Regions from separate parts of the Homo sapiens genome. Here regions 1, 2, 3 and 5 are each linked to region 4. The links come from fine-mapping of genetic effects on gene expression. A gene starts in region 4. Each other region holds a variant in brackets. All regions are shown on one strand. Distances are between the middles of the regions.

Region 1 (5,111 bases), 180 kb before region 4:
TGGTAAAGGTAGCCTCACTGTTCCCCAAAATAACATCCTTCCATTCTCCCTGAGGAGAGAAAGGCCTCTATTCAGTCATAGATTACAGTATGTGTGCTGAGTATGTTAAGAATTCACACAGTTTAAACAAGAGGGAACATTTGGGGACTGTTTCCAAACAGGGAACATTTATTGTTCTATAAGCAAACCGAACCTAAAGAACTTTCGGGAACATTTGTTGTGGTAGCATGTTATCAGAGCCTTCTCATGCCGTGATGAGATTGTTCTCAATTAATAAAACTAAATCACTAGATTTTAAAACTGACTTGGATGAAAAAAAAAGCTCAAATTTACCTACTTCAATATCTAGAGTTTTAAAAAATATGCTATTATAATAAAAAATATTTAAATATTTCACATTAGTTGCAAAGGATGAAATCCAGGTGGTCCTTGTTTGTGATATTAAACAAATGTGTTGAAGCAATGTGGTAGGGCAGTGGTCCTCAAAGTGTGATTCCTGGACCATTAGAAATGCAAATTCTAGGCTTTCTGGTTCAGACACTGGTGCAGCCCAGCCATCTAGATTTTTAACTCGTGTTCCTGATCATTCAGATGCACACTTTAGCTTGATAAGTGCCCAGATAGTGTAGAGACTTTCAAGCTATCCCAAGGCCTGCCAGATTGGAAAGAGGGAGGACTGTGGTGGGGGGGTGGGGTTGGGGGGAATGATCAGGAATGGTTCCCAGGCTTCCCCATGTCCATTTCAACTATGGGAACTTTGATTTTCTGTTTTACGTATCACAGAGTTTTATGTTGGGCTCTGTGACTACACGGTTTTGAAAAACACTGGGATAGATATTTCTTTGGAGGACGATATACCATGGCCCAGAAAATCTTTAGAGAATAACAGCATCTCTGGCTGTGTTCACATCATTTTAGCAATATGTGTGTCCTGAAACTGAATTTGGTCAGTAAAGTAAGAGTTAGCCTGTGTGTCAGTGACAGCCTCATGTTAACCAGTCTCCTAAGGAACACATGTACAAATCAGAAATGCCAGTTGTATTTTTCTAATTACAATCAGAGGCATAACAAAAAATTATGCATACACTCACGTTTAACTTCTCCTGATACTCGCACTGTGCACAAGTTAACATTTAGAGTTGGGAATATCCCAACAATCCCTTGTCCAGTGATTGAATTGTCCATGATACCAATTCAGGCCTCCACCTTTGATATATACCTGCAGGTGTGACATAGACATCATACAGCATTGTTAACTTACAGCTATAGAATCAGGGGAAAGAGAAGTTGACATTTTCTACAGATTTTTATCAACTTGTACAAATCCATTACACACACACACACACACACACACACACACACACACACACTCTCTTACTAAATTGCTGAGGGCCGCTAAATTCAGTGTCTTTCTGAACCATGTTATACAAATCTACTCTATTATCTCTTTCAAATTTCTATTTCTAAAAAAAGTTATATATTATTGATGGTTATTTATATAGATTTTTAATATCATTAATTAAATTGTAATAAGATCTTTATGTTAATGTAACTTTTTGCTCACATCAATTTTATATTGATATTATTTGTTTACCTCTCAGTTCTGGAGAGAGGTGATGATGATGATGATGATGATGACAAAAATAGGTTACTGTTTTTATAACAAGGATTCTGCAGTTAACATTTAGAGGTCTTACACAGTACCAAACAGTGTTCTAAGTATTTTATATTTATTAATACTTTTTATTCACACAGCCTACTTATGACAAAAGCCTTTAACCTTTTGAACATAACCCCCAATGAAAAAATTGAGATTTGGTACATATATACTTCCTTTATGTATATATTGTATATGATTAGGAAAAGAAATAATGAATCAACTTTTATTATATCTAATAACTTGTGAGTTTTTATTCCCTTCCATTTTATTATGTTTAATTTCAGTTTTAAAAGTCCAGTTGAGATTCAGAAAATTGATTTCATTACTCACATTAATAGTCACAGCCTGCAGAATAAAAAATTGTGCTATCAGATAGATAATATTATTATTTATATTTTACAGATGAGGAAATAGGCACAGAGAGGTTAGGTTAGTTGCCCAAATTTACATAATGAGTGGCAAATCCGCAGTTCAAACTTAGGTAGTCTGTCTCCAAAGCCCTCGCTCATAGTACTATATTCTGTCTTACCTAGTCAGCTCCTTCATATTCTACTACTGTCAAGGAGGGATGAACCAAATGGGGAATGTTTTTCTCCCAAATATGGGGACAATATAGTGACAGCCTCAAATTTTCTAAATAGAAGGATTTAGAGATGAAGGAATGGAGACTGGCTGTAGACTGGCGTTAGAGCTACTTTTCCATTTGAAGGCATCCTTTTATTTAGGATGTGTGTTTGTTTTAGGAAGTATTTGTAAAGAG[G/A]CTGATGGAGATTACTGTGGGGGGAAATGGCTTTTGCCACTGAACCACCCTCTTGGCACTACCACGGGAAATTTATTTTAAACAATCTAAAGAACAGTAGGTGGAAAAGATGTGTACCCAGATTATGTGGACCTTCCTGGTGAATGAGGAGAGGACAAAGTGATTGTAGGGCCTATTGTCCTGACTCCTTCTAGGGCATACAGTTAGAGGTGCAGGACTGCTACCATGGCTGCATATTTTTGAACACAGACATATTCTTTCCCTGGTGCTTTTAAATGTGATTTAAAAATATGTGTCAGATGAGCAGGCACAAAATGCAAAGATAGGAGAGCCATACAGTGAAAAATCTATTTCTCCATCTTTTCCTTGGTTGTCTCTCTTTTCTCTCTCTTTCCTAGAAACAATCACTGTTGTCTCTTTCTTGTGTAGCCTTCCAGAATGCTATGCTGTGTGTGTCTGTGTGAGTATCTGTAGTAAACATTAAAATATTACTACACATTTTCTGTGCCTTGAATTTATTCCTCTTATTTTATGTTTCAGATTTTGTTCCACATGTGGAAGTGCCTTGTGCCTCCTTTTTCACTGCTACATAGTAGTTCATTGTGTGGGTTTTCCAAAATTAATTTAACAGATCCTCTGTTAGAAGACATTAGGTAATTTATAATCTCTTGCAAGCCTGATTATTTTAAATTTAAATTACACCTAGGGTTCTGAGTCCTCTATATGGTCTTTTATTCTTAGCAGAAGCTTCACAACTCTCTGGGTCTTCAGCAGGGACTGATAAAGATCAAATTGTTGAATTAGGTCAGGTTTGTGTCAGGAAGTTGCTTGATCTCAGTTTTCTTAGATGGCTATTTTTAGCTTGTGAACAGTAATCATGGTAAGAAATCTTTGTATCTTGCCCTAGACAATCTTCTCTTGGAAAATTAAAGTGGCCCCCTTTAAAAGATTTAAGAAATGCAATTTGCTAACAGTTTAATGGGTTTATTAGGGACTTTGAGGGTATATTTCTAGAAGGAGAAATATTTTTGTTTCTCTGAAAGTTCTAGCTACTTTATTCTCCATAGCCCTTAAAAACTTTTCAGATTTGTCTTCCTATAATTCGTAGAGATTTGGAAAATTAGACATAAGGCACCTGTTTTCTTAAATGCATGGTTACCTATTCCTTTGTCCTATCCTTTCAAGACAATTCTGGGAACAGTTTGTTCAGCTTTACGAAGAAAACATTTCTTCATCACCTGAGTTTTCGGTCACCCATGAATTCTAAGAATATTTTAGCTGATTTCAGGGAAAAAGTATTCAATATTAGTGATTGATAATTATATGAAAAATAGACCAGTAAAGCAATCAAGTGGAAACTTGGTAGAAATGTATAGATAAGTGACCTGGTCCATTCTGCATTTTTCTGATTCAATTATATCCACAGTAACTCAGAGATAACAAAATTGGTGCTATGTAGCAAATAATCTGAAGAAAATAATGCTATAAATTCTTTCAGAAGTGATTTCAGAATTTAATATTTTCCTGTCAGGAGATTTATGACCTGACACTGAGAATTATTAAGGCTCAGATCCAAATACTTAGTTCATTTTCTCTTGCTCAGCATTTAGTAAAGATGTGGAACACACTAGTCAGATACTGGTTAGTCAAGCTCGGAATTCAGGATTTCATATCCTTGTCACCATGTGTGAACTTTGGAATATTTGGATTTTAATATATGCAAATGCTTTTATAATGTGTGATGTGTTAGGTGAAAATTATTGCACACACTAACAATTTAATTTAAAATGCTACTCTTGAATATTTTATAAACCACTGGAATAATAACATAGCCTTAATGAATATAAAACTGTTTCTTCTTCCTTTGTTAAATCATGTGGGCTGCATTCTACTTAATACACTGCCTCAATTTATCCTTTTGTGCTAAGATTTTAAGTTAAAATAGAAAATAAACAATAAATCAAGTTGGACTGCAATCATGTTCACTTGGGAAATTTCACTTAGAGACATTTGATATATTTTTGGAGGGATTTCAGGGATCTACATTGGTTAAGTTGAATCTGTAATTTGGTTATACATAAAATTAAAGTTAATCTAAGTGGACAGAATCAATACTCTTGTGAGTTTAATTAGATGGCCAGCTTCCAAGCAAGAGATTATTCTTTTTACTATCCTCCTATCCTCTTTCCTTAGGCAGCAAAATAATTCCTTTGCCAAAGTATGTTGGACAGTTCCCTGGTGACAAGTTCTATAGAAACTCATAGCTATGCTGTTAGCAATGTGAGACAGAAGGGAGGGATATGTGGGTGAGGAGGCCATTGTATTCTAGAGATAGTAATAAGCCTGCCTTATCTCCAGATCATAGCCCAGCCAAAGGGATAGTGTCCCATTTGCAGAGGATCTGCAGTCACTGTTTCTAAACCAAACCTATAAAACAGGATGGTGTTTCTTTCAGGCTGAAAAATCCCAAGACAGAAAAACAGGAAAAGTCGGGGAGATAAATTATAAATTAGACTGGACTTGCAGTGTGAGAATCCTGCTATTAATAGTTACGTTTGATATGAGATGCCTGGAAATGTGGCAGTAAATTGGAGTGAGGTTTTATTTCAGGTAATAACTTTCCTTTTATCTCTGTTGGTGCATTGGCAAGAAAATCTAGAAGAGTTTTAGGAGGACTGGATGCTATAACCT
Region 2 (5,111 bases), 500 kb after region 4:
GAGTTTCTGCCAAGAGATCCGCTCTTAGTCTGATGGGCTTCCCTTTGAGGGTAACCCGACCTTTCTCTCTGGCTGCCCTTAACATTTTTTCCTTCATTTCAACTTTGGTGAATCTGACAATTATGTGTCTTGGAGTTGCTCTTCTTGAGGAGTATCTTTGTGGCGTTCTCTGTATTTCCTGAATCTGAATGTTGGCCTGCCTTGCTAGATTGGGGAAGTTCTCCTGGATAATATCCTGCAGAGTGTTTTCCAACTTGATTCCATTCTCCCTGTCACTTTCAGGTACACCAATCAGACGTAGATTTGGTCTTTTCACATAGTCCCATATTTCTTGGAGGCTTTGCTCATTTCTTCTTATGCTTTTTTCTCTAAACTTCCCTTCTCGCTTCATTTCATTGATTTCATCTTCCATTGCTGATACCCTTTCTTCCAGTTGATCGCATCGGCTCCTGAGGCTTCTGCATTCTTCACGTAGTTCTTGAGCCTTGGTTTTCAGCTCCATCAGCTCCTTTAAGCACTTCTCTGTGTTGGTTATTCTAGTTATACATTCTTCTAAATTTTTTTCAAAGTTTTCAACTTCTTTGCCTTTCGTTTGAATGTCCTCCCGTAGCTCAGAGTAATTTGATCGTCTGAAGCCTTCTTCTCTCAGCTCATCAAAGTCATTCTCCGTCCAGCTTTGTTCCATTGCTGGTGAGGAACTGAGTTCCTTTGGAGGAGGAGAGGCACTCTGCGTTTTAGAGTTTCCAGTTTTTCTGCTCTGTTTTTTCCCCATCTTTGTGGTTTTATCTACTTTTGGTCTTTGATGATGGTGATGTACAGATGGGTTTCTGGTGTGGATGTCCTTTCTGTTTGTTAGGACAGACAGACAGGACCCTCAGCTGCAGGTCTGTTGGAGTACCTGGCCATGTGAGGTGTCAGTGTGCCCCTGCTGAGGGGTGCCTCCCAGTTAGGCTGCTCGTGGGTCAGGGGTCAGGGACCCACTTGAGGAGGCAGTCTGCCCGTTTTCAGATCTCCAGCTGCGTGCTGGGAGAGCCACTGCTCTCTTCAATGCTGTCAGACAGGGACATTTAAGTCTGCAGAGGTTACTGCTGTCTTTTTGTTTGTCTGTGCCCTGCCCCCAGAGGTGGAGCCTATAGAGGCAGGCAGGCCTCCTTGAGCTGTGGTGGGCTCCACCCAGTTTGAGCTTCCAGGCTGCTTTGTTTACCTAAGCAAGGCTGGGCAATGGCGGGCGCCCCTCCCCCAGCCTGGCTGCCGCCTTGCAGTTTGATCTCAGACTGCTGAGCTAGCAGTCAGCGAGATTCTGTGGGCGTAGGACCCTCCGAGCCATGTGCGGGATATAATCTCCTGGTGCGCCGTTTTTTAAGCCCGTAGGAAAAGCGCAGTATTTGGGTGGGAGTGACCTGATTTTCCAGGTGCCGTCTGTCACCCCTTTGACTAGGAAAGAGAACTCCCTGGCCCCTTGTGCTTCCCAAGTGAGGCAATGTCTCGCCCTGCTTGGGCTCGCGCATGGAGCGCGCACCCACTGACCTGCGCCCACTGTCTGGCACTCCCTAGTGAGATGAACCCGGTACCTCAGATGGAAATGCAGAAATCACCCGTCTTCTGCGTTGCCCATGCTGGGAGCTGTAGACCGGAGCTGTTCCTATTCGGCCATCTTGGCTCCTCTCGATCTTTATTCTTTTGTTGCAAATTCTTATTTTGTTCTTGATTTAAATTATCATACTTGTAAAGAGCACTGAAATCATTCCAACATATGTATATAAACATTTCAAAAAGTATTTATGGGATGTCTAGTATGTATACAAAATGGTATAACATTGGAGGGGGGAGATGAAAAAGAAAAATGAATGAGGAAATGAAAGAACATAAAACAAAATTCACAAAATACGAACTAATATATGAATTAGTTATATATAAAATCAGTTTGTGAATACTGGAAAGATAAAGAAGTCATCAGGCTGGGCACAGTGGCTCATGCCTGTAATCCCAGTGCTTTGGGAGGCCGAGGCGGGC[A/G]GATCACGAGGTCAGATCAAGACCATCCTGGCTAACACGGTGAAACCCTGTCTCTACTAAAAATACAAAAAATTAGCCAGGTGTGGTGGCAGGCACCTGTAGTCCCAGCTGCTCAGGAGGCTGAAGCAGGAGAATGGTGTTAACTCAGGAGGCGGAGCTTGCAGTGAGCGGAGATGGTGCCATTGCACTCCAGCCTGGGTGACAGTGAGAGACTCCGTCTCAAAAGAAAAAAAAAAAAAAGAAGTCATCAGTGAGATAAACAGACTTACTTATGACACATACTTATGAAAGTCATTTGATTCTCTGTCTTTTACTTTAGCTTTTGTGGCTTACTAAAATTCAAATCTTTGTCCAAACTGATTAGTTATCAAATAAATGCAAATTTGAATAACAAGAAGGTATTGTTTTACATATATTAGATGGTAAACATTCAATTAGAATATAAGGTCAATGGAGAATGTGAGTTCTATGAGAGCAGGGATGTTTGTCTATTTTGTTCATTGCTATGTTCCTAGTGCCTAGAACAGAACCAGGGCACACAGTACACAGTCAGCAACTTTTTCTAGAATCAATGAAAAATATGAGTAAACTAAGTATTGCTAGCATGGGTGGAGATGTGGGGCTTTAGAGCCTCACTGCTTTGGGAAGATAAACTATGGCAGCCATGCTGCATACTAATTTAGTACCATTTTATATACACAAAATATATGACCTGGTAATTTTGCTCTTGGGAATGTATACCAAAGACATTCTCAGCATAAGTCTTTAGAGTACGTATACTAGGAAGTTCACTACAGCTTTATTCATGGTGAATAGAGAGTTGGAGTCAAGCCCAGTGTCCATTATTGGGAGAATGAATAGTTAAAATGTGGTGGATGCACTGTATGGAGATGCCACGTAGAAGTTACCAGCTTCAAACTAGATAAATATAAGTGCATGACAGATCTAGTAAATACAGTACTGAGTGAGAAAATTATGCACATGTGTATAAAGTTAAAATTTACATAAAATAAAAATATATACCCACAAAACAATAATACACAGCTTTAAAGAACACTTGCAAACAAAATAATGTAACAGGCATTGTATTGCTTGCCTTTCAGGAGGAAGAGGAGTAGAAGTAAGAAATAAGAATTAAATTAAATCAGTAAAATGAGAAAATGTTTTACTACGTAACAGTGTTAATATAAATTAAACAAATGCTATTTTTAAAACCACAAGAAATAAGATTTAAGAGAGAATACAAGAATTTAATTTAATACTACATCTTGTCTCAAGTGAAATTACTTCCTTTTTTTTTTACTTTTGTAAATTATCTTATGGCTGTTGGAGTGAATTGATCCTTCTTTAGGATATGAAATCTTTGATTATCAATGACAGAAAACTATCAGTGTTCACTGTGACATTGACTTGCTGGAGGGAAGCTTATGTCTTTCAATTCGTTAAACCATTATACTAAAATTTATCTTTGCTGGGTTGATTTTATAGTTATCTCCGAACTTACTGTCTTCAGCTCCCTGCATGTCTTTCCTTCCCCCAGCTTGTGTCTTTGTTAATCAAGGTGAAGTAGACATGTATCTAGGGATGGCTGAAGTGGGAAGCCCCCAGATTTTCAGAGCACTGCTTCTCATTCCTCCAAACACAGCCATTAAAGGGTCATCACTCACCAGATATCTTTCTAAATGTTCCATAAAGAAATCATCTTTTTTAAAAATGTAGACATATTTTTTGATTATATGAAGATAATGCCACCTCTACTGAGAGCTAGGGCTATGAGAAGAGAGATACTATAAATTGTCCCAATGGCAGATATAAATAATCCAGTTATTTTACAATTGTTTCACACTTCACAGTGTATAAATCATGTTTTCTTACATTAACTCGTTTCAATTCTCATAACCGTGAGGGCAAGTAAGGGATTATTATTTCTATTTTAAAGATAAAATTGACAATCTAGAGACACTGACTGACTGATTCAAAGTCAAATTTTCGAAAGTAAAACAGCTGGGACTTGAACCCAGAACATCTACCTTGAAATCCAGGATATTTTCCAACTTACTATGCTACTAACACTTCTATGCTGCAAGACGCTGGGGAGAATTGAGGCTAGACATGGTGGCGTACCCCTGTAGTCCCAGCATTTTGGAAGGCTAAAGCAGGAGGATCTCTTGAGCCCAGGAGTTCAAAACCAGCCTGGGCAACATAGCAAGACCCCATCTATAATTATTTTTTTTTTAATTAGCCCAGCATGGTGGCACATGCCTGTAGTCTCAGCTATTCGGGATACTGAGGTAGGAGAATGGCTTGAGCCCGGGAGGTTGAGGCTGCAGTTAGCTGTGACTATGCCACTGCACTCCAGCCTGGGCAACAGAGTGAGACCCTGTCTCAAAAATACATAAATAAATGAAAGAGCGAGAGAGAGAATTGGTTAATTATGCATATGTGTAGATGGTTCAATAGAAGGTGGGCAGCTATAAGTGGTTTATTCCAAAAAAAAGAGGTCAATATAAAATGATTTCAAAGAGAGGAAAAGGCAGAGAAGCATCTGATGGAAAGCTTTCTATTGTACCTGCAAGTTGCCCTGTTTCAACCAAAGAGGCTTAATTTTTGGCAGTGAGTGGGTTGCAGTGTAGACAGCCTACTCACATCCTTTAAGCCTAGGTTGGACATGTGGAGAATTCACAGATCCTCCACCACAGAGACATGTGGATTCCTTACATCTGTGACCTCTGAGACATTTCCCACACGTGACTGTCTCTGGAATTCCAGCCACACTGAATCCTGGATTCGGGGGAAAAGATTATCCTGCTGCAGCTTGAGTTAGAAATTGGAAAAATCGGTCTCCATTAGAATATCCAGTTTGAGTTCTATAACTGTATTATTCACATATTCTCAGATGTAAATAAGGCTATATATTTATGTATGAATTAGTTTCAAAACTTAAATGTCTTCCTTAATTTAAAATCTTTCTTCTTTGAATGCTGATTATTTTTGATAGAAAAGACTTTTCTGAAGTATGACTCATTTATCTTATGTACCACCTCTAAACTCTCTCTCACAACCTCCTTATCCCAGACACTCTAGGACAGGCTATAACT
Region 3 (5,111 bases), 70 kb after region 4:
CATTCTAAGGTTATTTTAGCTATACTGGGTCTCTTCCATTTCCATATTAACTTTAAGATTAGTATGTCAATTGCCAGGAAAAAAGATGGAATTTTGGTAGGGATTTCATGGAATTTGTGGATGAATTTGGGTCATATTGCTATCTTAATAATATTAAATATTTAACCTATGAAAATGAAATGTTTTTCATTCGTTTAGATCTCCTTTAATTTCCTTCCATACAGTGTTGTAATTTCGATGTACAAGGTTTGCACTTTTGTTAAATTTATGCCCAACAATTTTGTTCTTCTTGATGTAGGTCATGTTTTATTGATTAGTTATTTATTTTGGTTGTATTTACTGATCAAATTTTCCAAGATTTCATAAATATATTATGATATATTTTGACAGAAAACTTTTGTGATGGCTAAGAAAGGTTTATTCCATTTATGTGCTCCCATTTTTGCTCTCAAATGATGTTGCCCACTGACTTTAAAATTAATTTCAAAAAGTTCAATGTGGCCGTAATAGTGCTATTATAATCTCAGTATATCAGTGATTTTTAAAAACGGATTTCTACTTGTTTTATACAATTGGTCTTCAAATCCTGCTATTATACCTTGAAAATGTCTCTCAAAGTCATCTTTTTTTTTCCATCCTGTGTTAAGCATTTGAAATATAAAATATATAAGCCTCCTCCAAAAATATATAAGCTCCAGTTATTCAATGGTTATGTTTTTGTTATCTTCTTTTGTTGTTATTGTTAGCTTATTTTAGTTATTTCCCCATTTTCCATCCCCTAATATCTTTTACTCAGAAAATTTTCTTATAACCCCTACAGGCAGAATTAATTTTTCCTGTTTCTGTGATTACACAATGTATTTAAGGTGTTTAGCACAATATTCGTTATAGAGAATAGTCTCAAAACATGGCACCTGTCACCATCTCTAGTTATCTATTCAAATCATCAGTATTTGCCCATATCATACTCTATATCTTTGGTATGTTTTCTTGCCATCAATTCCCTCAGAACCACCCAACCCCCCCCATGAACTTAGATTATTTTTTTTTATTATACTTTAAGTTCTAGGGTACATGTGCACAACATGCAGGTTTGTTACATAGGTATACATGTACCATGTTGATTTGCTGCTTTTTTTTTTTTTTTTGAGACGGATTCTTGCTGTGTCTCCAGGCTGGAGTGCAATGCCACAATCTTGGCTGACTGCAACCCTGCTGTCCTAGGTTCAAGCAATTCTCCTGCCTTAGCCTCCAAAATAGCTGGGACTACAGGTGTGTGCCACCACGCCCAGCTAATTGTTTGTATTTTTAGTAGAGACAGGATTTCACCATGTTGGCCAGGATGGTCTCGAGCTCCTGACCTCATGATCCGCCCGCCCCGGCCTCCCAAAGTGCTGGGATTACAGGTGTGAGCCACCGCACTCGGCCAGATTGTAAATTTTTTGACAACAATGACTATTCTCCTCATCTTTCTATGTTCAAGGCCTGCATAGTTTAGAAACAAGGAAACAGTACAGTTGCAACCATACAATTGAAAAAAAAAAATTGTCCATGGCTATAAATTAATTAATCTGTCCTGATTTTATGTCTGTCAAATTATAGGTAGTACTAACCCAGTAAGAGCTTTATTGATAAATAAATGAGAAATTACAGTTTTATCAAGTGTGAGGTAATCCCTTTTTTTGGGGCTTGCTTATTTCTATTAAGCTTCCAAGTATTTTTTAAAAGACAATTTGTATTCCTGGCTTTATTTTACAGTTTGGTTTTATCTATTCTATTTGCATACTGAGAGGAAGCTGGTATATAGCAGTCTAAGCTAAATGAAAAATAAGTGCGCAATTCTAATATTCAAAAACAGGATAGAAGATGTCCATTTTTATTTTTTTATTCTAAATAGGAATAATATGCACTATAATGTTTATATTTCTTCCAAGTATCTTGTACCACATGCTTATGATTGACATTGGGCCTCTATACCTATTCCTTTTCGTTAAGAGACTACTTTTGTATTAACATTTTACCATTAGATTTTATTGAAACACTATTCAAAGTCCTCAAAATTTCAATTTTATACCTTTTTATTTTTCTGTAAGATGAAGCAATGTCTTTAGAATGTTATTTTAAGCTCATCTTTGGGCTTCCACTGTTTCCTCTACTTGCCCTTATTTTAAACTGGAAAATCCATGAATGTAATGACCACATCTTAGGCTCTTTCATATTTCAAATGCCTAAGCCAGCATCAAATAAATGTATTTTATTTATTTATTTATTTATTTATTTATTTATTTATTTATTTATTTATTATTTTGAGGCGGAGTTTCACTCTTGTTGCCCAGGCTGGAGTGCAGTGGCACAATTTGGCTCACCGCAACCTCTGCCTCCCGGGTTCAAGGGATTCTCCTGCCTTGGCCTTCCGAGTAGCTTGGATTACAGCCATGCGCCACCACACCCAGCTAATTTTGTATTTTTA[G/A]TACAGACGGGGTTTCTCCACGTTGGTCAGGCTGATCTCAAACTGCCAACCTCAGGTGGTCCGCCCGCCTCAGCCTCCCAAAGTGTTGGGATTACAGGCGTGAGCCACTGTGCTCAGCCAAATAAATGTATTTTTTAAAAAATATCCCATGGTTTGTTTATCATATAATGTAAAATCAAGAATCCAAATATTTTTCAAAGGGTAGAGAATTTCTGTGAGTAATTTTTTCCTCAGCATCTTAATATCCAAACTCTACTTGCTCACAAGATTACTTAATCAGCATCATATCAGAGACAGCTTGCTGTGTTTACCATTGTTAGTTGGGCCAGCATATGTCCAAAACAGTTGGAATGAGAAAAACAGCCTTGACTTGAAGCCAAATTAGAGAGGGAGGAGGAGAAGAGTTCTTTAGCTGTTGAACAGGACTACATATTTTGGACAGTGTAGGGTACTTCTGTAGAAAAAAAGAAAAAAAAGGGTGGGGAATTCTTTCAGCCAAAAAACAAAGGTGCATTTTGAAATATCTAAATGCACTGAAATAATAAAAGCAAATTGGTGATGTTGTTTTAATTTTATTTATATAAGCCTTTGCAAGTAATGAAATCTTTTTATGTTAACCAAAAAAAGAAAGAAAGAAAGAAAAGTATTCTAAGATATTTATAATGTGGATAATTTTTTTTTTTTTCAGTTTTACCCTGGCAACTTTAATTGGCTTAGTGGTTTCTAATTCTGGGCAATTTTCTGTTTCTTTATTAAGCAATGTGGGAGCTGTTGAATAACCATCACATTTCATAGGATCAGAATAATATTTCTGATTTTTCTCAAACTGGGTATTATATTACTGTATAGTAAAAACTTTTTAAGTGAGGAAAATGTCTATTCTTGTTTTGCTAAGTAACATTACAAAAAGTAGATATTTTTGTGCATTCCACCCCCTTAAGAAGCAACTATTGTAGAAAGTGGTGTTTTCATTGAGAGAGAAAATGGAAAGTAATATTTTGCTATTTATTATGGAAAGTTAGAGGAGAGGTTTCCAAATACCACAATCAAGGAATAAAACAATTTTGACCACAACTGAATTTTATATATCAGGCAAAGCCTGTCCTAGGGTAGTTTTTAATTAGATAAAGCTTTCTTCAGAGTTCCTGCTTTCAATTCTCTATCATTTCTTATCTGGTAGGGATCCCGCTTGCTTCCTAGTACCTCTCCCTTTCTTTACATCAGAATCTATTATGTATGGTGGTTATTGATTTACCCAAAGAAGTCAATGAAGGCCAACAGCAGTTGCCTTTTGCATGAGATATACTTTCTGATAAAGACTAAAAAAGTAAATCACACACACATACACACAATTTTTAGGTGGGGAGGGAATAGCTTTGGCAGTAGAGGAAGCCTTGGGAATCACTGTTTTACCTCCCTGGTTTTATTTGTTTTATACATGAGAAACCCAGGATCCATAGACGTGGACTAATCAAGACTAGAACTGGAGACGCAGTGTTCTTTCTGCCAAATTCTGTTTCTTTACATTGACAAGGTATTGGGCATTAGCAAGCAATTGAGAGTAGACTGATAGAGATGTTAATTTATTCATTACTTGTTCTTTAAAACAACTGTATCCCATGCTTGTGAGAATCAAGCAAGATGACAAAGGTTTGTTACCAACGAGTTTGGTAAAGCATTTTCAGAGGAGTGTAGTGGATGTAGTAGGTTTGTACTCTAGGACCTGGAGGTGAGAGAAGACAGAGGAAGGATGTACCATACCGTATGTTCAGAATCAAACCTTCCCTCAGGTCCTGAGGTTATCAGGTCAAGTGTGTCGCAAGGCCTAGCTTCCTCTTTGCTAAAGATGAGTTTTTCTTAGGTGGTGCCTTAGTCATTCATGCAAATAGACATCTGCAGTGCCAGCCCCACCTGCTCTCCAGACATGCCCAGTAGTTTTTGAACCTTGGCTTTGAGTATGTCCTGCAGCATGCCAAATTTATCTCGAGGGGAATAAGCCCAAGTGAACCGCCTACGTAAATCTAACCAAGACAGGCCTGATGTGGCGGGTTGAATTTCTATGTTGAACTAAGGAATCGCATGGGGTTCTATGGCTATACTTCTCCCCCCTAACTGGGCAAGGCGAGGAAACCTGAATAACAACCCCTATACAAGAGCATTTACCTTAGCATAGAGACAAATTGCACTGTTTGTTGTTCTCTCATTTCTTTTGTTTAACCATGATAATACTTACCTTTTTAGCTTCAAGATTTATAAATTCCAAGCAATTCATTTAAAGCATTTTTTTAAAAGCTTGAACTTAAAATTTTGTATAATGTGTTCTCTAGCTACTGAATATTCTACTGGTCTAATCTAAGTTATATTATAAATTTTGTGGAAAATAAGCAGAAGCCATTTGATTCAGAATGCCTTTGCTAAGCTCTATGATTAGCAATGTATTTCCTATGATTTTGGGTTATATAAATTTAAATTTGCATTAATATCTGGAACAACATTTGGGTAAATATTTTTCCCATAGTTTTTAAACAATACCTAACTACCAGAACTATCTTGCATGAAGCACAAAATTTCTGTAGTGGTTTGACTACAGATCTATTACTAGGGTGATAGCCAAACTTGTAGTATTATTATTGCAGCTTTG
Region 4 (5,111 bases):
AAATAAACCTCATGTTAAATAATGGTCAAAATGAAGAAGACACATTATTTACAGTATTTTATGTGGAATGCCCTTTCCTGGATCCTTTAAGAACTAGGATAATTACTAACTCAGTCTTCTGGAGTTTTATTCTATTTTTTATTTTTTATTATAAAAGCTGAGAGATCTTTTTTTATCAATTGTTGTTTGAAGGTGTAATTTAAACTTAAAAAGACAAAAGATGCATAGGCATATTGTATCAATATGGTGATTTTGTTATCTCTTTTGTATATTCATCATAAATTTTTGTATTCTGTTAAAAATCACTCTGAAACAGACAGTGGGTCCATTTTTCATCAGTAGATCATATTAAATTTTATTTGGAATATCTCAGATAATGATTTGTATCATTTTGGTAAGGGACAAGATGGTGAGACTGGATAATATAAATGCTAGACCTATATGGTTAGTTATTAATTACCTGTATTTCCTTAAGCTACTGTCTTTAAAGCCTGACTCCAATAGTGAGTCCTTTTGTAATCAAGCCTCCTTCGTTTCCTCATGAGTGAATTTCAATGATTGTTTTTCTTAATATAAGAAGTTCTTGTTCTGATCTCACCACAAAAAAAATGGTAACTAGCTGAGATGATAGATTTGTAGCTTGATTATGGTAATTATTTCACAAGGTATAGGTGTATCAAATCATCAAATTGTACACCTGAAATATAAAGAATCTTGATTTGTCAAATATACCGCAATTTAAAAAATGTTCTTTACATAAATGTTTTGTAGAATAAAAAAAAAAAAAGTTCTTCAAAAGAAATCTCAAATCTCCAAATGGAAACAGGTAAAAGTGGAGCTCCCCTGGTTCCACGGAGAACCTTTTTTGAGGAAACTTAGGCAACTCGCAGGTACCTTATGTCATGAGACAGAGTTTGAAAACTACAATTGACTATCTCTAAATTTCCTCCCAGGTCTAAAATGTGATGATAGTTACTACTTCAGTACATCATCCTTAAGGAAAATTATTAGGTCCACACTGTTTCTATCCTTTGAATTTTACACATAAATTTTGTAATCAAAAGTTTATTTGTAATATCAGATGGAATCAGATAATTGCTTTTTGTTTTTTCCACTGACAGGAACATAAGATTTTGTTGTGTAGCTTAAGTCAAACGCAGTTTGGAATATATATTTTTTAAAAATTGTAACTTACATATCCAAATACAATTTTTCAAGAAGTAGAGTATTCAGTAGAAATTAATCTGTGAAAGAAGAGGAATTCAGCAGTGGCCTATTTGATGAATGATTTAACGTGCTTATTTCTTCCCTTTCATCAAAACTCTGTGTCCCCTTGTTTGCCCCCTCTGACTTCATACTCTGGAGTTGACCAAGATCCCTCTTCCATCGGATTGTTCTGGGAATTTTGAAATAATCTGCTTTTTCCTCTCTTTCCCCTGTTGCTTCTGATGCCTTAGAATTACATTTTCCTCGCTGATTTAGTTTAGAAAAGAGAAAAGAGCTTCCATGACTAGTAGATTATCACTTTTGGGTTTGCTCTTGGAAGTGACAAGATGCTAGGATCCCTCTTTGGAATGTAAAATTTATCTCTTATATAGAAAGGATATAAATGTAGCACCAGAGACTATAAAACTCTGATACTATCTACTGTACTGTATAGCTGAACGCCACAATGTGTCTGGTAATCTATTGACTATCATAAATGCTATTTCTACAGAAAAGTTAGGAGGTCCATATTTCGGGCAACCAATGTATAGCTGAATGCAGAACAGTCATAGTTGGGTACTAACCATATATATGATTTATCCATCAACAGGTGCATATGCTCAGAAATTCTGTATCCATAAGAAATCAGACTACTTTCTTTTCCTTTTGCAAGTAAATTGAATTTAGCCTGAGAGGCTGAGGGGAAATTTTCACATATAAGCCACGGTTTTGTGTTTTGTGTTTTGTTTTGTTTATAGATATAGTACTAACTGGATGGATGCGATAAAATTCATAGGTGGTACTAAGATACAATAGGATTTGTGAAATGGACAATTGTCTTGCATAAATAGCAAGTAAAAAATCAAGCCTGTCCTTCATAAAAATTTTATTCTGGGGTGTGCTTGTTTTCCAAAAGTACCTCTGCTAAATCTCCTGTTAGTCCTGAAACTAGAAGGCAGAAAAGCTTCTAGTGCTACAGCCAACTGCAGTGTAGCCTGAGAAACAGGCAACAAAAATAGAACACCAGGATTGCTGTGCGTGGGTGAGGCAGAAACCACATTATGAGCAAAAGCTTCCAGTATTATTTTAGAACCAATACAGAGCTCTGTACTTCTCTCCTCTCTCTTCCAAAAACACATACTACAAAAATAAAATGAAATGAAATGTATGTGCATTTGCCCTCTTAGAATTATGATTCTTAATTTTTTTTCTTGCCTTCCTTTCTTTGGAAGCGAATCGCCAGTATGGAAACACAGTGTGTAAAGCAAGCTTCGAGAGAGGAAAGAGTTAATTGGTTTTAAGGCCCTGCGATAGAGAATTATGGTTGGAAAGATAGAGGCTGGACAGCTGGGTTTGCTGGGGTATTTTTAAATGCATTAATGCAGGCTCCAATCACTCGGCCATGCTTGACCTATTTTTGGCTCAGGCCGACCATTGTTCTATTTCTGTGCCTGTGGGCCATGCTGTTGTTGATTCATATGCAAATGGATTATCACTCGCTTTAGCCAACTTGAGCTGAGAGAGACTGAGAAAGGGGGAAGAGAGGCACAGACACAGATAGGAGAAGGGCACCGGCTGGAGCCACTTGCAGGACTGAGGGTTTTTGCAACAAAACCCTAGCAGCCTGAAGAACTCTAAGCCAGGTTTAATTGGTTTCTTTTTCTCGTGGGTAGACTTAATAATTTTCTACGTATTCTGACAAAGAAATAACCCCGAAGCACGTTCCTATTTCCCACCTGCTTGTAGTTTCCGGGATAACCTAAACTCCAGAGAGCTATAGCATCCACTCTGTCCTTTCTGCTTTGCACACAGGTTGGTAACATGGGAAAAGTGTCCAGGTCTTTTTAAAAGTGGATGCCCATTTGAGCAGAAAGGAAATCATTGTCGAAGTTGATCCTCTGCTGCTTCTCCTCAGGGAGGAGGGAGAACCAGCGAGGGTAGCTCCTGGGGCCGGTGCACTGAGCAGTGATGAATGTTTCATGTAGCTGAAGTAAGAGTGACTGGAATATGCTGCAGACAATTTACGAGAGTGACTCCTGTTTTTCCTCAGATGGGGTGGCTGGACGAGAGCAGCTCTTGGCTCAGCAAAGAATGCACAGTATGATCAGCTCAGGTAAGATCCTCTTTCATAACTGAGACGTTTTAGGTTTGAAAGGGGGCTGGCTTGGGAAATGCAGCTAAGAAAAGCACCTCTCTTAAGGAAATTGCTGCTTTTTCGTGTTGATGTTGCTATTTTCTTGGTGCGTCTGTAGGGTTTAACTTAGATCCCTTCCATTACTGTTTCTGTGCATATTCAGTCTGCTTAGGGACAGCAGCTTCTGAATGAAATTGCAAACTATTGCTTCTGATGAAAGATGAGACTGAGATAAGTAAAATGTAGTTGGGGGTGTTTTGCCTTTACTATGCAACTAGAAAAAGGAGCTGTGTACTGATTGTAAGCCTATTCTAATAGGACTTTAAAAATCAGGTAAGTTCATATTGGGGCTTCAGTTTAAACTGCAGCCCCGCTAGCCTGACGATTTTATATTTACTCTGTGCCTACAGAAGCACATCTATTTATAGACCTACCTTCTAAAATGTGTTTGCCACAGAGTTATAAAGGTAGTTTTCTTTTTTCCATTATGTGGCTTTTTCTCATCAGCCCCAAATGAAACTGTTTAGGATGAAATAAAATTGTTATTAGCAGATGCTTATTTTAATTTTCTTCAAAAACATGTGGGAAGTCTAGCATTGTCAGGCAGATGTGATGGCATAACACACATGTAAATGTGTTAAAAGCAGGTGCAGCGTTTTAAAGGATAATAGGAACAGATTCTAATTTCTAGTTTCTCAAGGAGATGAGCTGGTGGGAGATTGAGCTTGTCAGCCTTGTCAATTTATACTTACTAAATGAACATACTCTCCAGGCAGTATCACTTAACGTGTAATTATTGCCTTTCATATTTATTTCCTATGGCTATTTCCTAAAGCTTTGGGAACTCTTTGTTTCTGTCCTCTTCTGAATGTTTCAACCTAAAATTGGCTTAAAGTTCTCACTTAGATCCCACTTCCCATGTGGGCTTAATCGTAATTATAGATCACCGCCTAGATTTCCATGATAAGAATGCCACATAAAGCAGTGTTTACTTTGTAGAGCTAGGTGTGAAAGAAATATTCCACAGGTTGGCATGATGTCTGTTTTGGTGTTAATACACCTTCCCATATGGGGATCTATGTTTAAAGCTAGTTTTCTTTAAACCTTGGTTAGTTATGTTAATTTTAAGATCCTTCTGTTGACCCAATCTTTTCATGGAATCAGAATAAAATATCAATTTTGCATAATTTGGTATTTATACACTTAAGTGACAGGAATTATGTTAATGAATAGTGCCTGCTTAACAAAAGCAAACCTACCAGAATTTCAGTACAGTTTATTCTTATAGCTGCAAAGCTGACAAGGGCTCCGGGAGGGTTTAACAGGTATGTCTCTAATGGGACTGGTCATTTAACTTAGCATTTTATTTTTTAAAATATGGATGAACCCTTTGAAAATAACTATTTTAGAAATCTTTTCAGCACTATGCTTTATCCTTTTAGTCCTCACTTCTGTGTTACAAGTTTGATATTTTTTTTCATATGGTAGAAACATACATGCCTTCCAAGTAGCAAGTGTCTGCTGAAGCTAAGGCTGGCTACAGGTGTTTGCAAGCTTTGCTTTTTTCTCCACATCTTTGATAATCACATACAGCTTTACACCCATTTCAGTAGAGATTGTCATTTTCCTAGCATTTAATGGTTTGTGTACAAAGCAACAAGATTTTCAGACAGGGAAGTGCTTCAGGCTGTCCATGCTTTGGCCAGTTCTACAAGAAGCAACATTTAAGCAGCAGCTAGCTATTAAATGAAAAGTGATGTAGGTTAACATC
Region 5 (5,111 bases), 400 kb after region 4:
AAAATAAGGTGTTTTGAACTACTTCTGCATACAATGACATTGTAAAGGATTTAGCAATATGTATTCATTAAGTCTAGAGTATGCATATGCTCATTTTTTCTAGTTTAAAACCACAACCTATATCTTCCTTGAATTTCCTGAATATAATAAATTTTAAAAATAGAAAAAAAATTTAATTAAATTTGGGGAAAATAATGGCTGAAAAAATCTGGTCTGACTGAATTTTTCAGAAATAGCTTTACTGACATTTTTCTACATAATTATTTGTAACAGAGTGTGGTTAAGAAATGTGTACATCTGATTTAAAGATGACTTTTGAAGAAAAGGTAATAAAGCCTTTCAAATGATCGCTTATTGAATAATTCTCGAAAATCTAAACAAAGACTTGGAAGAATTTATGATTTGTCAAAACTCTAGGACTTTATAACTTTTTCCTTTGTTTTCTTAGAATATAGCTATAAGATAATAAATAAAAATAATGTGACTCCTAAAATGCAGTGTTACAATTTACTAAAAATTGTTTAAAGAATGCTATGCGGAGGTTTCTGATCCTTCCTGTTTGCTCTGCTACCTTTTTCTGCAGAATATCTAATAATCATATTTGTAGGTCATATCAATTCAACCATGTTTTACTGGAGAAGATCTTGCTAAACTGCTTGATTTGGCAACCTAAAAGGGTGAATAATGGGCTATAATTCTCTACATAATATTTTAAGAATTGGAGTCTACTTAAAGATTTTATTTGCTACTCATTATATGTGTAGAATGAGTATAATGAAGTTTTAAAAGTGGTTATAAAACAAATGTTATGTTTTCTCTATCTAATTGCTCTTTTAAAATATGGTTACTTAAAAAAAAAAAAAAAAATCCCTCCATTTCAGCTAAGGGTCTTTGCCACCAGGGAACCATGCATGGATCCAATGCTTTTAAATATCGTGTCCATGTGTGATCTTTCTAGACACAGTTTTTTACTGTCACTTTTAAAATGTTCCCTATAAGTCAATCTCTTCAGGAACAAATACATTTTTGTATATGCATGAATAGTAAAATATATTTCACACATTTCTTTAATCATCTCCTCTGGACCATAAAGTCATACATGGCAACTGACCTTGTAAAGCACCATTTTAGACATTTCTTGGTGGAATTATTTCTTAATGATTGAATCATTCATTGATTTATTTGTTTTGTTTTAAAACATTTATTGAGTTTTTAACATTGGGGAAGCATTCATAGTCTATTAAGACAGACACATACACAATTATGACAATATATTTGTAAAATAATATTCTATGGGAACATAGATGAAGAAGTACATCAGATTACCTGGTTGAGTAAAGACCTCACTGACAAGGTAACTTGTATATGGCATAAAAAGATGAGTGGTACACAGCCAAATGGAACAAATAGCTAAAAATTTTTTACATAAATATTTTAAAAATTCTAAAAGCATGTTATATTTTCAGAAAAATAATGAGTGGCCTCATGTTAATAGTGTTTGAGGTATGTGAAGGAGAGTAATTAAGAGAACATATTATTTCTGAAGGCGTTTCCTTTGACCACAAAATACTGTGAGTTTTATAAAGAAATATTGAGAGAGGCAGTATCTCATTTTATCTAAGTTACAAACTCAGAGAAAGGGTATGTACTCAGAGAAAGGGTGTTTACTGTATATATATCTACTTACTTATCTATCCATTGATCATCAGTCTGCTTATGTTGGAATTCACATTTACAACATTTGAATGGAAAAAAAGGATAAGACTTTTTTTTTATAAGTGAGTCTGATTTAGTTGATTGGTGTGACAAGGAAGACTGGTATTGTCTATCTGATTGCATAGTGGACATTTTCCATAAATTGAATCAGCTAAATCCAGAGGTCCAATATTTTGAGGAAATGTTTTTAAATCACTTACACAATATGCTTAAAAGTATATCCTTTAAGAAATACTAACTCATAAAAATATTAGACATCCCCTTAAAAGACGAAAGAAGGTATATAGTTTTTCAAATTCTGTTACGCTTATGCTACCAAAAAGTATGAAGATTGCTGAGTTAGGAAGTTATTGCATAGGGAAAGTTTCCAAAGTATGGCTTAGGTTTTGGAATCTCCACTAAGCAAACTGTTATTAATGAAAAAACATGTTTTAATGTTAGGATATATTTGCTATGGTTTGGCTGATTGAAAACATAACTTTTGGATGACAGCTAGACTGTCGTCCCTATTAATAAAAATGCTGTTTGGGTGTCTTGTCAATAGAGGACACTTTTCTTGTAGTGCTTAGATTTGAAGTGAGCTCCTATGTGGTAACTAGTAATTAGTAGGACTGAGTTTACTCACCTGATGTACTGGTATAATTTTTTTTTTCCCTGAAAGTTACTTGCTCTCCCTATAGCCAAACATGAACTTGATGTCTTCTTTTTTATTATCTTTTCTGAGATTGATGAAGAATCTGACAACCTAGGCTAGATCATGTTAAAGATGTTGACATGATGGAAGACTGTCGATTGCCAATAGTAAGTTTCAACTATGTAACAATTAAATAGATCGTACTTCAAAAATTTTATAGATTCAGAATCTACAGATTTTAATCATTTGGTTTAGTCCAGTTAAAATTAATAGTATATTAATTATTTCTTTGGAAGACATGGTGGTTAGCTTACCTTATAAATAATGTGAATACAGTGAGTTAATGATACAGT[C/A]TTTAAAAATCTATAAGCCTTGAACTATTCAATGTAATTTGTTATTTAACAAATTATCAGTGTAATTTGTTATATAACTAGGGTTATATAGCCCTAGTAGTATGGATAAAGATGGATATCCACACTAATCACATCTAACTTTTAACAAGCTTCATACTATCTGTGACCTGTAATATAAAAAAATTATCTTCAGTGTGGAAATACTATCAGAAAAATTCAAATTTCTATTCTCACAAATTGATAATGTGCATTTTCTGAAATAAAGTGTTGTTTGAAAGACTTGATAATACACACACAGAAAGATGATAGATTTCTCTGTACATGGATTTCAAACAAGGAGTTTCTCTAATTTAAAAAAAAATGAACTGGTCACACGATATATTCAAAACAAAACAAAGACTTCTATCAGCATAACATTCCAGAGGTTTTTTTCCCTGTCCAAAAGATGTATGAATACATACAAGAATTTTGCTTTAATTGTGATACTCTTAATTTCAAGTCTACAAAAACAACTCAAATCTATACATGCGCACACAGGTGCACACACACTAATGCACCTATGCATACTATCATTATTTAGAAATCAAAGATAAATAAATTTAAAATATGTCTCATTAGGACTGGGAAAACTCTAGGGTGCTTCTTCATGCTTTCTAAGCATGAAATGTACTTGATCCTGGGATGCTGTGAAAACGATGATTTAGCCCACTGAAGAACAGATGGCCCTTAATCACCCCATGTGGCTAAACACACAAATGCCAACCTCAGAGACGCCTTACCTTTGCCCTGTCTGTCCCCTCTAGGCTAGTCCTGCTATATTAAGGGTTATTGCCTTTCTGGCCCTCCCTGCAATCAGCTTTTGAAGTCCATGGCCAAGAAGGCAGTGTGAGAATACCATTATGAGAGAGGTGTTTGCTTAAAGTCATAGTCCGGACAAGATCCCATGGACCCCTTGATAGTCTAGCAGGGAGCCACAAACTTTAGCCAATATCTTCTAATTCCCTGAGGATTCAGAACTGCCCACCATAAAAACATAATGGGCTGTTTATCTGAGCAGCCAGAAGATAACATCTTAAAGTTACAATCTGGGTTACAGACTGGTGACATAAAGCAATAAGAAGTACGAATACCACCCCTACCCTGGGAAAAACAACATGTGAACAGTCTAGTGTATAGATACCACTGGATGCCCTTTTCTCATGCTAATAAGAGCCACAACTTTCCCAACATTTTTCTGTTAAATAGATTAAATATACTTGGGAAGAAATGGATGGACCCCGCCCCTTACTCCATTTGCATGCTTTATACTGTTTTTGAAGTTTGGGACTATGTTAGGAAATATTCCCACTGGCACAATCAAGTGAATTTTTGTGGCACATTTTGACTTCTTTTCAAAGATTGCTTAAGTCCTGTGACATTAATCATGATCTTCTAATAATATACTACAGAGATTCCCAAAAAGATACTTTATTCCCAAGGCTCCAATACTGCAACAGATCAGACTCTCTTTCTCTCTCTGTATATATACTATATATACATATATATATATATACACACACACACACACACACACACACATATATACATATACATATATATATATATAAAATTGTATGAATAATATATTTTGTTCCTGTGATTCTTTGACTCTCTGCTGGGACAGAATTAAAATATCTCAGAGTTAAAAAAAATCCTCTTTTTTCCAAACGCCTGTTATTTGTCTGCATTGCTGACATTAGGGAAAAGAAAAGCTAGGTTTGATATTTCAACTGCATCAATTGAACACGTAATATAGTGGAGACTTTACAACTGTTTGTTTCTGGTAAGCCTGTTTGTTATTATTACCAGTCAACTGGGAGAATCCAATGCCTGTAGGGGATCCCACCCCCAACAAATGAATCTCTATGATTATGGAGAGTGACCAAATTAACCACATAATTGCTAGACTTAACCTCATTGTATAGTATGGGTATTTTACCACATATAAATATGGCCATGAACCAACTATATCTCAACCCACTTGGTTCGTTTTAAACATTTCCTGAACATCCAATAGGATTGTTTTCATAACTTATCTTATTTAATCATAAAAGTTGTTTCCATATATCAGTCCAGTATTTTTAATCTTTTAAATGTTCACATCTGCATATATACATTTCTAATCTACTGCATTTAACAAGCAGCTTTCTTTTTTATTTGTCCCAAGAGTATGTCATATTATTATTTTATGCCAGATTCAATTTAGTCACAAGTTTTGTCTGGCCTTACCTACTGTATTTTCTTCTACCCTTTCAGGAACCCTGTAAAGTGGCAGAGGAAAAGTTACACATGAAATTGCCCTAAAGTGTTTGGAAACAGCTTCAGTCACAACTGCATTGTGCTATGCAATAAAGCTACCCTCACAGGCA

Alleles and levels. Positions count from the first base shown, and alleles are read on the strand shown. Sizes are in standard deviations (SD) of each study's normalised expression. Not every link is listed here.
For the expression in fibroblasts of the gene that starts at base 2,744 in region 4, allele G in region 2 goes with a higher level than allele A (small effect, 0.15 SD a copy in GTEx).
As copies of A replace G in region 3, the expression in cerebellum of the gene that starts at base 2,744 in region 4 goes up (small effect, 0.30 SD a copy in GTEx).
For the expression in unexposed skin of the gene that starts at base 2,744 in region 4, allele A in region 5 goes with a lower level than allele C (small effect, 0.15 SD a copy in GTEx).

The links.
Region 1: its variant is fine-mapped to the expression of HDAC9 in lung (TOPMed, PIP 0.94).
Region 2: its variant is fine-mapped to the expression of HDAC9 in fibroblasts (GTEx, PIP above 0.99).
Region 3: its variant is fine-mapped to the expression of HDAC9 in cerebellum (GTEx, PIP above 0.99).
Region 5: its variant is fine-mapped to the expression of HDAC9 in unexposed skin (GTEx, PIP 0.97).

What each region holds. Positions count from the first base shown.
Region 1 is chr7:18,309,480-18,314,590 of GRCh38, forward strand. It overlaps a transcript of HDAC9 not described here. Among named protein-coding and RNA genes, the nearest start is that of HDAC9, 180 kb to the right of the region's middle. The variant G/A (reference allele first, on the strand shown) is at 2,421.
Region 2 is chr7:18,989,403-18,994,513 of GRCh38, forward strand. All of the region lies in intron 25 of HDAC9 (histone deacetylase 9), which reads left to right. Among named protein-coding and RNA genes, the nearest start is that of HDAC9-AS1, 90 kb to the left of the region's middle. RefSeq lists an enhancer at 580-1,081. The variant A/G (reference allele first, on the strand shown) is at 2,014.
Region 3 is chr7:18,562,707-18,567,817 of GRCh38, forward strand. The region is part of intron 2 of HDAC9 (histone deacetylase 9); the gene reads left to right. Among named protein-coding and RNA genes, the nearest start is that of HDAC9, 70 kb to the left of the region's middle. The variant G/A (reference allele first, on the strand shown) is at 2,471.
Region 4 is chr7:18,493,006-18,498,116 of GRCh38, forward strand. It overlaps HDAC9 (histone deacetylase 9), which reads left to right and starts at 2,744. Exons shown (of 26, transcript NM_178425.4): 1 at 2,744-3,018; 2 at 3,257-3,319. The coding sequence starts at 3,298. RefSeq lists an enhancer at 2,473-2,522.
Region 5 is chr7:18,896,968-18,902,078 of GRCh38, forward strand. The region is part of intron 22 of HDAC9 (histone deacetylase 9); the gene reads left to right. It overlaps HDAC9-AS1 (HDAC9 antisense RNA 1), which reads right to left and starts at 5,025. Exons shown (of 3, transcript XR_927081.3): 1 at 4,972-5,025. The variant C/A (reference allele first, on the strand shown) is at 2,704.